Linked DNA regions of Homo sapiens: region 1 is linked to region 2. Evidence: fine-mapped expression QTL. A gene starts in region 2. The other region holds a variant in brackets. All regions are shown on one strand. Distances are between the middles of the regions. Region 1 overlaps SCG3 (secretogranin III). Region 2 holds the start of TMOD2 (tropomodulin 2).

Region 1 (5,378 bases), 37 kb before region 2:
AAGTTTCTACACCAACTATTGAAGTAAATAAGGACTAAAAATTGTGGATCTCTTCTGGTGTCCATTTACCCCTTTTTGTGTAGTAGTCTCTGTGCTTCTTTGGGGACCAGATGACACAGATCTTCGGTGGTAAGGCAAGAGTGGGCTTCAAGATCAGGAAGAAAGATGCTCAGAGAGTCACTTAGGTAAATACAGTGCGGGCAATTGGAACATGGGCAACTCTTAGGGCAGTGTTATTGTACATGGACTGTAGTTGGAGGTACCCAGGTTCAAGCCTGGCTCTGCTACTTGTTAGTCATGTGATTATGACTTTATGTCTCTGTGCTTCAGTGTCTTCATCTGTAAAATGGGGATGATAATAAGACTGCCTCAAAAAGTTGTCGTGAAGAATAAATGAGACAATGCATTTTGGAGCATAAAGCAGTCCCCAGTACATGATAAGCACACAGTACAGGTAGCTCAACCAAGAGGGCTGTGCAGTAGAGTAGAGGTAAGAGGGCTCAGATGGGGCTCAGAATGGGGTGGTCACCACACTGAGCTCTGCAGCTATTGCTTCTGCAGAGGCCCTGGACTTTGAAAGCCTCTTTTTGTAAGCCATCTGGTACTTTCTAGAGCACCTGGTTTCTTGGTGCTGACTCCCTAAGCTTTAGGGCCTCACCTGGTTAAGAGAGTGGCTGATTTTTTTGATATAGAACAAAGCAACATTACTGTCCATGTCTGAAGGTGAGGTCTTATCCTGCAGGGAATGCAGGTAGCGGAAGCTAAGCAGATCAGAGTCCAAATGCCAGCTGTTATTTCCTGTGTAGCCTTAGCCTACTCACTTCGCCTCTCTGAGCCCCAGATTCCTCATCTCTCAGTGGATGGTAATATCCGCTTGCAGACATCAGTACAGGTAAAGGGCATCACAGAGTAGGTGCATGAGTGATGCCTGGTATTCTCATGCCACACTTGAGGCCCATCGAACAGTGTTTACATCCTGGGGAGTTTTATTAGAGCCAGTTCTAAGGTTTGCCATCCAAACCTTGAAGTGAGGCACTGGTCGCCTCTTTGTCTAAGTTTTTGCCCGCCCCCTGCCAGAATTGGGCAGAAGACTTAGAGCTGCTTACACAAAGCCACACATTTGGACTTTTAACTGAAGTGATGGAATCTTTAAGTATCTGCCACTCTCATTCAAGTCCTTGGCTTGATGATGCTCCTCAGTTTGGAAGAACCATCCCTAACCAGAAATGAACTAATCTAAGGACCCATCTATCTAGTAAACTGAATCAAAACTCTTCTCTGCCAGGACATCAAGGTGGATTTATTTGTGTGTGGGAATCATGCCCCTTGACACTTACCAACTTGATTCTTCCTCCTGGAACCTCATCCGCACCTGCTCTCCTTGACCTAAACCCCTCAACACACAAACACACATAGACACATACAAATATGTACATTACCTAGTTAGGGAAACAACCTTGCAAATGCTGCATAAGTCTAATATTTGTGGTTCTGAACATACGTGTGGTCTTTAAAATGAGATGTAGTGATATTTCCTGAGTGTTTGATATAGTTCTCTTACCTCTTCCAGGAAAAACAGAAGCCTATTTGGAAGCCATCAGAAAAAATATTGAATGGTTGAAGAAACATGACAAAAAGGGAAATAAAGAAGGTAGGACCAAGTGTGGTTGTACATTGCAAACTTCACCCATTTGTCAGGGGCTCTTGTTATATAAAAATTCCCACAGTCAAATTGACTGTGCTAAAGTCTCCCCGCAGAGCCCAAAAAAGACTGAAGTCACCTGTCAGATACAGAGGGGAACAGAACCTCCATTTCTCTTATTATTCAAATTAGCCTTTCAAGCAAAGGCGTTTTCTTTTCTTTTACGTTTTATTAGGAAAAATGTCAAGCAAACGTAGAACGAATAGCATAATGGATCCCTGTGTCTCCAGCACCCATCTTCAATAATTATCAAATGTTGCCAGTCTTGTTTTATCTAGCCCCCCTTTCTTGGAGTATTTTAAACAAAGGCATTTTCTGAGCACAAATTTTGTGCACCCTGCAGTCACAAAAGCAGTCACTCGCTTACATAAAGCAAAACACAGAACCAGGCCCTGTTCTAAGTGCCAGAGATGTCCCGCCCAAGGAATGCACAGCGTCATTAGAGCTATGGTTGGCCCTGCTCAGTGATGTCATGGATAGGTGTGTTACTGCCAAGGAGGTGAGAAGATGGGATGGATCTTCATACTAGGACAGAGACAGTTGAGAGAAGGGCCACAAGTCTTCTCTGGAAAGTTAAGGATGAATCTGCCGAGTGAGGAGAGATGGAGGCAGAGCGAACACTAGGTACCAAGACATAAAGGGACAAAACAGAGGGGTGGTTCTGGGAACTGGAGCCATTCATGTC[C/T]CCAGGAACAGTGGATGTTTGTGGAGAAGAGCAGCATATAGGGTTGGGAAGTGGGCAGTAGCCATGCCAGGAAGACATTTATGTACTCTTCAGAGAAGGTTGGTTTTAGCCAAGGGAGCCTAAATTGGGGCCTAATTAGGTTAAGAGCTGAGAAATCCATCTGGCAGCAGTGTGACTACAGATTGAAAAAATAAGACCCCAGAAGGCAGCAGAGAGATAAGGAGGTAAGACAGAGAGATCTGGAGCAGAAATATGGGGCTGTAAACCAGGGGACAACAGAGGAGATAAAAAGGAAGGGAGGAACTCAAGAGCCATGTGGAGAAGGAGGATTCTGACACGATTCCCAGGTATCTGGCCAGAGCAGTTGCAAAGTGATGCCTTCCTAAGAAACAAGTAATGCTTCTCAAACTTTAAAGTGCATCCAAATCACCTGGGGAACTTCTTAAATATCCCACTGCCCAGGCTGCACTGCAGCACCACTAAATCAGAAATTCTGGGGACACAGCTCTGGCATCAGTATTTTTTCAACTCCCCAGGTTATTCCAGCGTGCAGCCAAGTTTGCAAACCGCTGAGATACAGCACAGAGGGAGAAAGAGGTATTTTCAGCACCCTGGTAGCTTAGGTCTTCTAAGTTGAGTGATGATGGCAATAATTATCGATGTTCATGCATACTTTATTTGGTTCAAAATGATTTGAATTTCCAGGCTGTCAGTTACATTAAAATCTACATGAACCATATTTCATCGAATCTGTCATTGATTAAAAATGCACCATTGTTTTATGTGCCATTAAATTACAACATGCCATCAATGACTGCAAAGACTTTAAAATTAAAATGTTCATCTTAGAATCACTGTAGTACACTGTGTGCCAAAATACATCCCAAAGCCATGATAAATTGTATGGTACATCAATTTGGAGTATTTGTTACTGTTTTCACTGATTAGCATATGAATCAGACTCCTGGTCATAATCAACAACATCTTGCAATTCAATGTTCCCATTCCAGAAATGACCAACCTGGTGAAGCATAGAACTCTGGTGCTTGCATATGGAAGGCTCTGTTAGCAAACTGGCATTGGGTTCGATGCTCCCTTTTGTCTCTGGGAAATATGCAGTATGCCCTCTTGAAGACAGAAACAGAGCTCTTTCTCCACTGCTCTCATATGCGCTCGGCTTGACTTGGGGTCATCTTCTCAAAGCCTGTGGGGGATCTGGGTCCTAGGGTCATGCAGTGGCTGCAGCTGTATAAGCAGGGAGAATTACTATTAGTTCTGACCTTTCTTAACCATTGTTGCCACCCTTTGTTTGGTAAGGGACTGGGTGACCTGAATCCCCTTCCCAAACCCAGGAAAGGGAGGTCCATGTGATGTGATAGTGAGGATAATGAGAAAATCTTATGTAGCCTTAAAAAAATATGCTTTTAAAAAGCGAATCACAGCCCTTCTCTCCTTTGAGCCTTACAACCTTAAAACTTCTTTTAAGGTTAGCAAGATGGCTACTGGCTTATGTCTCCTAACCCCCAGCTAGGGCAGAGTTGGCATTAGACCAAAGGGCCTTTCCTTTGCACCATGCTGGTTTTCCCACTGCACACAGTAATAGCCGTGTCATAAAGATAACAATTTTTCCTTTTCAAAAGAAAGCAAAATATTTGCCTGTTTGTCCATTCAAATCACTGGACCTCTTCACATCTGTCTTTGGGAGTCTGCACTTTTTTTTTTTTTTGAGACAGAGTCTCGCTCTGTCGCCCAGGCTGGAGTGCAGTGGCACGGTCTCCGCTCACTGCGAGCTCCGCCTCCAGGGTTCACGCCATTCTCCTGCTTCGGCCTCCCAAGTAGTTGGGACTACAGGCACCCGCCACCATGCCTGGCTAATTTTTCTTATTTTTAGTTGACATGGGGTTTCACCGTGTTAGCCTGGATGGCCTCAATCTCGTGACCTCCTGATCCGCCTGCCTCGGCCTCCCAAAGTGTTGGGATTACAGGTGTGAGCCACCGCGCCCAGCAAGGCAGTGGTTTTCAAACTTTGATGCACATTAAAATCACTTAGCGGGAGTCTGCCTTTTATTCCATTAAAGATGTTGACACTGCAGCCTATTCTGCAGAGGCAGTATTAATGAACCAGGAATAAACAAGAAGTGCCCTTTGTGCCTTAGGGGTCAGGAATAAAGGAATCATCGCCTTAGGTGCGGTGCCTGCAAAATGTATGTTCAGCTTCGTTCTCTACTTCGTGCCTGAGAGAATGGGAAAAGTGAAAAACAAAAATAAAAATGAGCATTTATTGAACATTTGCTTTGTACCTGTTAGATGTTTTATAGTCAGTACTACAAGGCTATGGAATGGTCAATCAATGACCAGCATTCAGAACCTGACTCTACCACTACCTGAGCAAGTAACTTACCCCCTTTTCTGTTTCTTCATCTCTGAAATGAGGATACTAATGCTTACCCATGAGTGTGGAAAAAGCAACAATGTGCTTTCTCCTGTTCTCTCACTCAACACAACAATCAACACAGAAGACTTCTGTGACCAAATGCGTGGGGGTTTCTCCCCACCACCAAGCAAGCAATCAATTCTGCAGCCGACACTAGCTGGTTGTCCGCTGATTCAATTCAATTCCAACACTATCTACTTAGAGTCAGCCTCAGACACCACAGGGTGAGGGCGCAGTCCCAAAAGAGTGCCCCTTCCTTTGCACCAGTTGCATGTCCAGGCCTCTGGAACAGCTGGCTGACTGGCTTCAAGTTTCGGTTTCCACAGCCTCCTCTTAGGGTTCAGTTAATTTGCTAGAGTGGGCCTGGTATGGTAGCTCACACCTGTAATCCCAGCACTTTGGGAGGCCAAGGTGGGAGGATCACTTGAGGCCAGGAGTTTGAGACCAGCCTGGTCAACATAGCGAGACCCCATCTCCACAAAAAATTTAAAAATTAGCCAGGTGGGCCAGGCACAGTGGTTCACACCTGTAATCCCAGCACTTTGGGAGGCCGAGGT
Region 2 (5,378 bases):
ATATCTGGGTTCAAACTCTCTGATGTTAAAACCCATGTTGTTATCTGTTATATGATAATATCCCATCACATTGCCTGTGGTTTGTGGTGGTTGTTTTTAATCAACTCTAGGAAGCAGTCTTTCAGTCCATCCAAAGAATGTACTTTCACATTTCATCTTTAACACTTAGGATGCTTTCAGCTTCAAGTAACAGAAAACTCCATCTCAAATTGACTCAACAATAAGGTTATTTATTATCTCATATAACAAGAAATCCAGAAGAAGGGCAGCACTGGGGCTGGTTGATGACTGACTCAACAACAATATGGCCGACCCAGATTCATCGTATCTCTTTACAATGGCCAGAACTGGGTCACATGTCCACTCCTAAACTCTTACAGGCCAGTTAAGAGGATTCTATTCCTCTTGTCTATGATAGATTTGAGAGTGTACCTCTCAGAGGCTAATAGGGTCACCTTTCCTAATGTGTAAACACCCATATAGGCTTCTATAAAGAAGAAGAGGGTGGACTGAATGTTTAATAGACAACCAACAGTGTCTACTACCTGTTCCTAATGAGGTGTGCTACATATTCCACTGTGAATAATTAAAATACTTCATTATAACTGCCACGTTGAACTTTTTTCCTTTCTGCCATTTGACAATTACAGTCAATATATCAGCTTCCTCATTTACAGGAAGAAATGGCTACACAAAATGATATGTAAGGTCCCTTCCAGCTCCAGGAGTTCTGTTTCAATTTTACATTTTCATCTTCTAAAAAGCAAGTAGAAAAGTTAAACTTACAAGATATGGTCCAGAAATGATCATGGGTTTCAACTGATAAGTCATAGGCATATTGACATCCTTTCTTCCTTAAGATAAGACATAGGCAATAGATTTAAAGAGCTAAACAGACTGGAACTGGTAATATCTTTCCATTAAGTTTTAACATTAGGTTAAATGTTCTACTTCCCTCACTCATCCTTTAACACCTTCCAGCTTCCAACACTCATCATACAGACAGAGACTGATCAGAAGTTTCTTTTCACAACTCACTTTATTTTGGTGTCAGCATCCTCCTGGAGCATGGCTCTGGGGCTGTAGGATAGCTCTTGTATCTCTGCTTCGACTGCCGAACATGACTTTAACTTAAATCATTCCCCTGTCTGCTTCCTTTCATGGCTAGTTTCTGAAGGAATACTCTATTCGTTTTATCACATGCAGCCATTTTCCTCGTGCAGAACCACGGGAAACCAAAGAGAAATACTGTACACTACTGAGCACCTTTGCTACTCTTTCTTCCAATATGAATGAAATTGCTTTATTATTTTCAGCATATGCCTACTATCAGCTTTCTCTGGGAAAACTGCTGGCTCGATCCGTAAGCAGCCCTGTTCTTATTTAACAGAAGGCTATGACTGTAACAAATGTACAACATAAAAAAGTCAAAGGCATCCTGTCGGTTACACAGGACATTCGGAATAACAAATGTACAGGAAAACTTGGGAACATGACTTAAAGTAATTTGGTCACACCCCCATTTCATTTAACTCTTTCTGGCTCAGATTTGTCATTCTGACAGGAGGCCCAAGATATAGTCCATTACCACAATTGATCATAGAAACAACACTGGTCTCTCAGTCAGCAGCCACTGCGTGCCAGTGTTCATCATGCTAGTTCCCAGAGTTTTAGAGGATTAACTTTACTTTCTGGTTCAACCCATCTGCTGGGGAAGGTATGGCCCTATTTTGCAATGTGCAAAAGGGAGACAGTGCTGGGGGTGCCCACAGTGGAAGGAGAGAAGACAGGCTTACTGAACACCCCTATGACCTTGAATAAGTCACATCACCTCTCTGTGCCTCTTATTAACTATCATTGGGGAAAAATACCTTCACTCTGCCTGTCTCACAAGGGTTCTTGTAAAAATCAAATGAGAACACAAATAGGAAAGTATTTTCATAAATGCAAACCAGTGTTATCATTTTCAGATGTGGAATTTCCTCTGCAGCACGTTTTTTTGGCCACACGATTACTGCACACCTCGTGCCAGACAGACTATAAAGCTGTTTCACCTCTTTTCACATTTTGCCTAAAATTTCATATAGAGATTACACCAGCCATGCTGCATCCATCCCTTTGGTTCATTTTCCTCCACTACATCTGTGAATGCAAATCCCACCATCATGTGAAACACTGCATAGCAGCAACTTGCAAAACTCAACGAACCTTAGACTGCCAAGATAAGTCCCATAAGCAAAGGTTATGCTCAAAATATGCTGCAAAAGTTCAAGAAGGAGAGAGATATCACATCTAATTAGAAAAGGCCTCTGGAAGTTAAATCTAGATGCCATGTATTTTCATAATGTTGGTCTTTGTCCTATGTCACCCCACTCTGCTGTCATGCTTCAGAAACTTGACTTTATTTTCTCTATCTTTGGAGCTCTCAAGAACCTGGCAGACAGAACATCTCAGGGTATATTCAGGGATGAAGTGAACGGGCTCAACGACTAACAAACCCAGTGGATTTTAACATTTACCCAGCCCAACGAGGTCCAACTATCTTTAGGTTAGCACGACATATAGGACTTTCCCGGCCCAAGAACTCCCTCGGAAACCCCAAGGAAGGAACTTTCACTGAGTATGCACTAAGTGCCAGATCCTAAGTGCTATGGGTCGCTTAATCCTCACAACACTTTTTCAAGCTTGAAGCCTGTTTTACAGATGAGGACGCGAAGGCTCAGACAGGCTAAGTTGTCCGGTCTCACCTCAGTGAAGCCGCCACTGCGCTTGGGCTCTCCAGCCCCTCACGCCATCACCCTAGAGCCTTGCTAACTTCCACCTCGCTTACCTCCTTCCCTCCCTAGGCTGCCAACCCAACTACTCTCTCCTCCCACGCCCACGCCCAGCCAGGAAAACCTGGGGCGGGCGGGGTCTGTACCTGAGACCGCTCTCAACGCGGCTTCCGTGTCAGGATGCTCGCTCACAGGAATGCTCATCACAGGCTTGAAAGCCTTTGCCATCCACGCTCTCCGGAGCCCCGAGCGTCTCCAAAGAGCCTGCCCAGGCTTCTCCCCGACCCAGGTGCTTCCTCCCCTGCAGAGCTGTGGCGGGGTTCAGACCCCGATTCCGGGAGAGGACACCTGTCGGGGAAGGGCGGGGCTGGGGGACTGCGGGGCCGCGGCGAGGCTCAGCCGGGAACTACGCTTCCCAGCCTGCTCCGCTGCAGCCGCGCGCCCCGGCGCCGCGCCCGGCCGGGAGCCGCCTGTTGATCGCCGCGCTCGCCCCGGCCACGGCGCCGCCCCTGTTCTCCCGGCCCCGCTCCACCGGGGCTGACGGACTGACGGCCAGCACAGCCGGCTCCGGGATGAGCGCACGGACGGGTGAGCGCCCCGGGGGGCGGGTGGGGCCTGTTCTGGACAGCCGGTGTCTGCAGCCCCCGGGCCCGCAGCGCGGTGGCCGCCGTGCCCTCCCTGCCCGCGGGAGGATGCTCCGCGACATGGGCGGTCGGCCGGGCGGGCGTGCAGAGCCGGGCCGCCTCTCGCCTCTCGCCTCCCGGCCCGGTCGGCTGCGCCGGGAGACCAGGCGCTGCGCCCGGGCGGGAGGCGCCCGCCGGGGTGTGAGTCCCGCGCCCCGCACTGCGGTGCCGCAGCCTCTGCAGCCCGCTGGGCCGCAGCGGGGAGGGCGCGGTCTCCTGTCCTCCCGGGCTGCGGGGCTGTGTTCTTCCACTCCGGGCTTTGTTCCCCCACTTTTCCCCTTCCTGTGCATGTTTGGTGAGCTCCTGGAGCGGTATGCATCTCCCTGCCTCGTTCAGCAGGCGATGGGGAGGGGTGGACTGGCCGGCGTCTTTCCTGAGATCGCTGGAGCTGTCACTCGCAGGGCGTTTCAGCCTCCCAGTAAGCGGCCTCGTGCGGATCCTCGAGAACCTTATTATTATTGTTATTACTTTTCTGGTTAAAGTAATTGTAGTATGTGCTCCCTTGAGGCTTCCTAAATGTTCCCTGTTGACCTGCGGAAATGAAGGTGGATTTTTAAAACAGTAATAAAAGGCTTCTAATGGGAATTTTTAGAGTATTCAGAGGTAGGAAGGTGATGCCGTCACAATGCAAATTAGCAGTGAAGGAGGCCGTGCTTACTGCAGCTTCGTCTGTGCCCATTACATATCTGAATCACGAGGCATTTAGGACGGGAATGAAAAGAAGATCGGGGGAGGTGTTTTAAAAACCAGGTTCTCCTCTTAGCTTGACCATTCAGGAGCTGAGGGACCTGGGCAAGTCCCTCCACCTCTCTGGGCCTCTGCATGTAAAGGGGCGTTTGGGCTAAATGATTTGTAAACCTCTGTTCTTCCAAGATTCTCCCCTCTCAGGGAACTGAAAAGATGAGAGTGTTTCTGTTTAACAGCACTACAAAAAGCCTAATTGTGACAACAAGCGCCTCTACCCTAGTGAGGAGGAAAGATTTTTCAGAGCTTCAGCAATCTGATTTTTTTTTAAAGATAAAACTGATTTTCTCGATCGACTCTCTTCAGTCTAACCCAATAAATACGCATTGCAATCATTTTAATTTTTGTAAGGTACTGTACATTGGTGGGCAACAAAATGATGGGGTTTGTTTTTGTCTTTAATTTGCTGAAGGTGAAGTGATGGGATCAGCAGATAAAGGATTAGTGGCTCCCTAGGGCTGGGCACGAGTGGTCAAATGTGGTCAGCATGGAGGTCGGGGAGGAAGCCCCAGCAAGAAGTAACCAGAATGTGTATACACAGAAAAGAGAAGTTGCGTACTGATGGATCATTGTTTGAAAAAGAAATATGCAATAGAAGGAATGAGAGAATCAGGAACTCGGCGCTCTGCAAACCTAACATAACAGTTGAATAAGGCAAGGACTTACCAACTGGTCCAAAACCTTTGAGTGAAAGGTGGTTGGGGAATAGGATTTTCATATTATTTCAAAGTATCTCACCACAGTTTACTCTGGGAAAATTTGTCCTTACAATGGAGAAATTAGGAGGTCACCACTGGAACCAAATGACCAAGTTTAGCAGCATCTACTGCGAGTCTCCCGTTGTGAAGCAATAAGGAGGCATAATTTCACCTCTGTAGTGTTCCTGCAAAAAGACTTGGCGATGGGGCAGAGCAAATGGGAGCAACTATTGTAGGTTAAAATACTCAAGTGATACAATAGTGAATTGGGATGTGTGAACTTTGAATCCTAGATGCAAAAAAAAAAGCTATAAAAGACAATTTGGAGATAGTTGGGGATGTTTGAATATGGATTGCATGTTAGATGATATTATGGAATTGGTGTTAATTTTCTTAGGTGCAATAATAGTTCATTCTTGTGGTTACCTAGACCAGACAATCCTTATTCTTTGGAGATGTGGATATTGGAGGTGAAGTGT

What was found. PIP is the estimated chance that this variant, and not a neighbour inherited with it, causes the effect. A credible set is the group of variants that fine-mapping cannot tell apart.
Region 1: its variant is the best candidate, but not a certain one, in a credible set for the expression of TMOD2 in whole blood (TOPMed, PIP 0.73).

The regions. Positions count from the first base shown.
Region 1 is chr15:51,711,763-51,717,140 of GRCh38, forward strand. SCG3 (secretogranin III) reads left to right here. Exons shown (of 12, transcript NM_013243.4): 11 at 1,571-1,651. Among named protein-coding and RNA genes, the nearest start is that of LYSMD2, 23 kb to the right of the region's middle. The variant C/T (reference allele first, on the strand shown) is at 2,388.
Region 2 is chr15:51,748,351-51,753,728 of GRCh38, forward strand. It overlaps TMOD2 (tropomodulin 2), which reads left to right and starts at 3,247. Exons shown (of 10, transcript NM_014548.4): 1 at 3,247-3,362. It also overlaps a transcript of LYSMD2 not described here. RefSeq lists an enhancer at 2,801-2,870 and silencers at 2,981-3,410, 3,461-3,570, 3,601-3,660.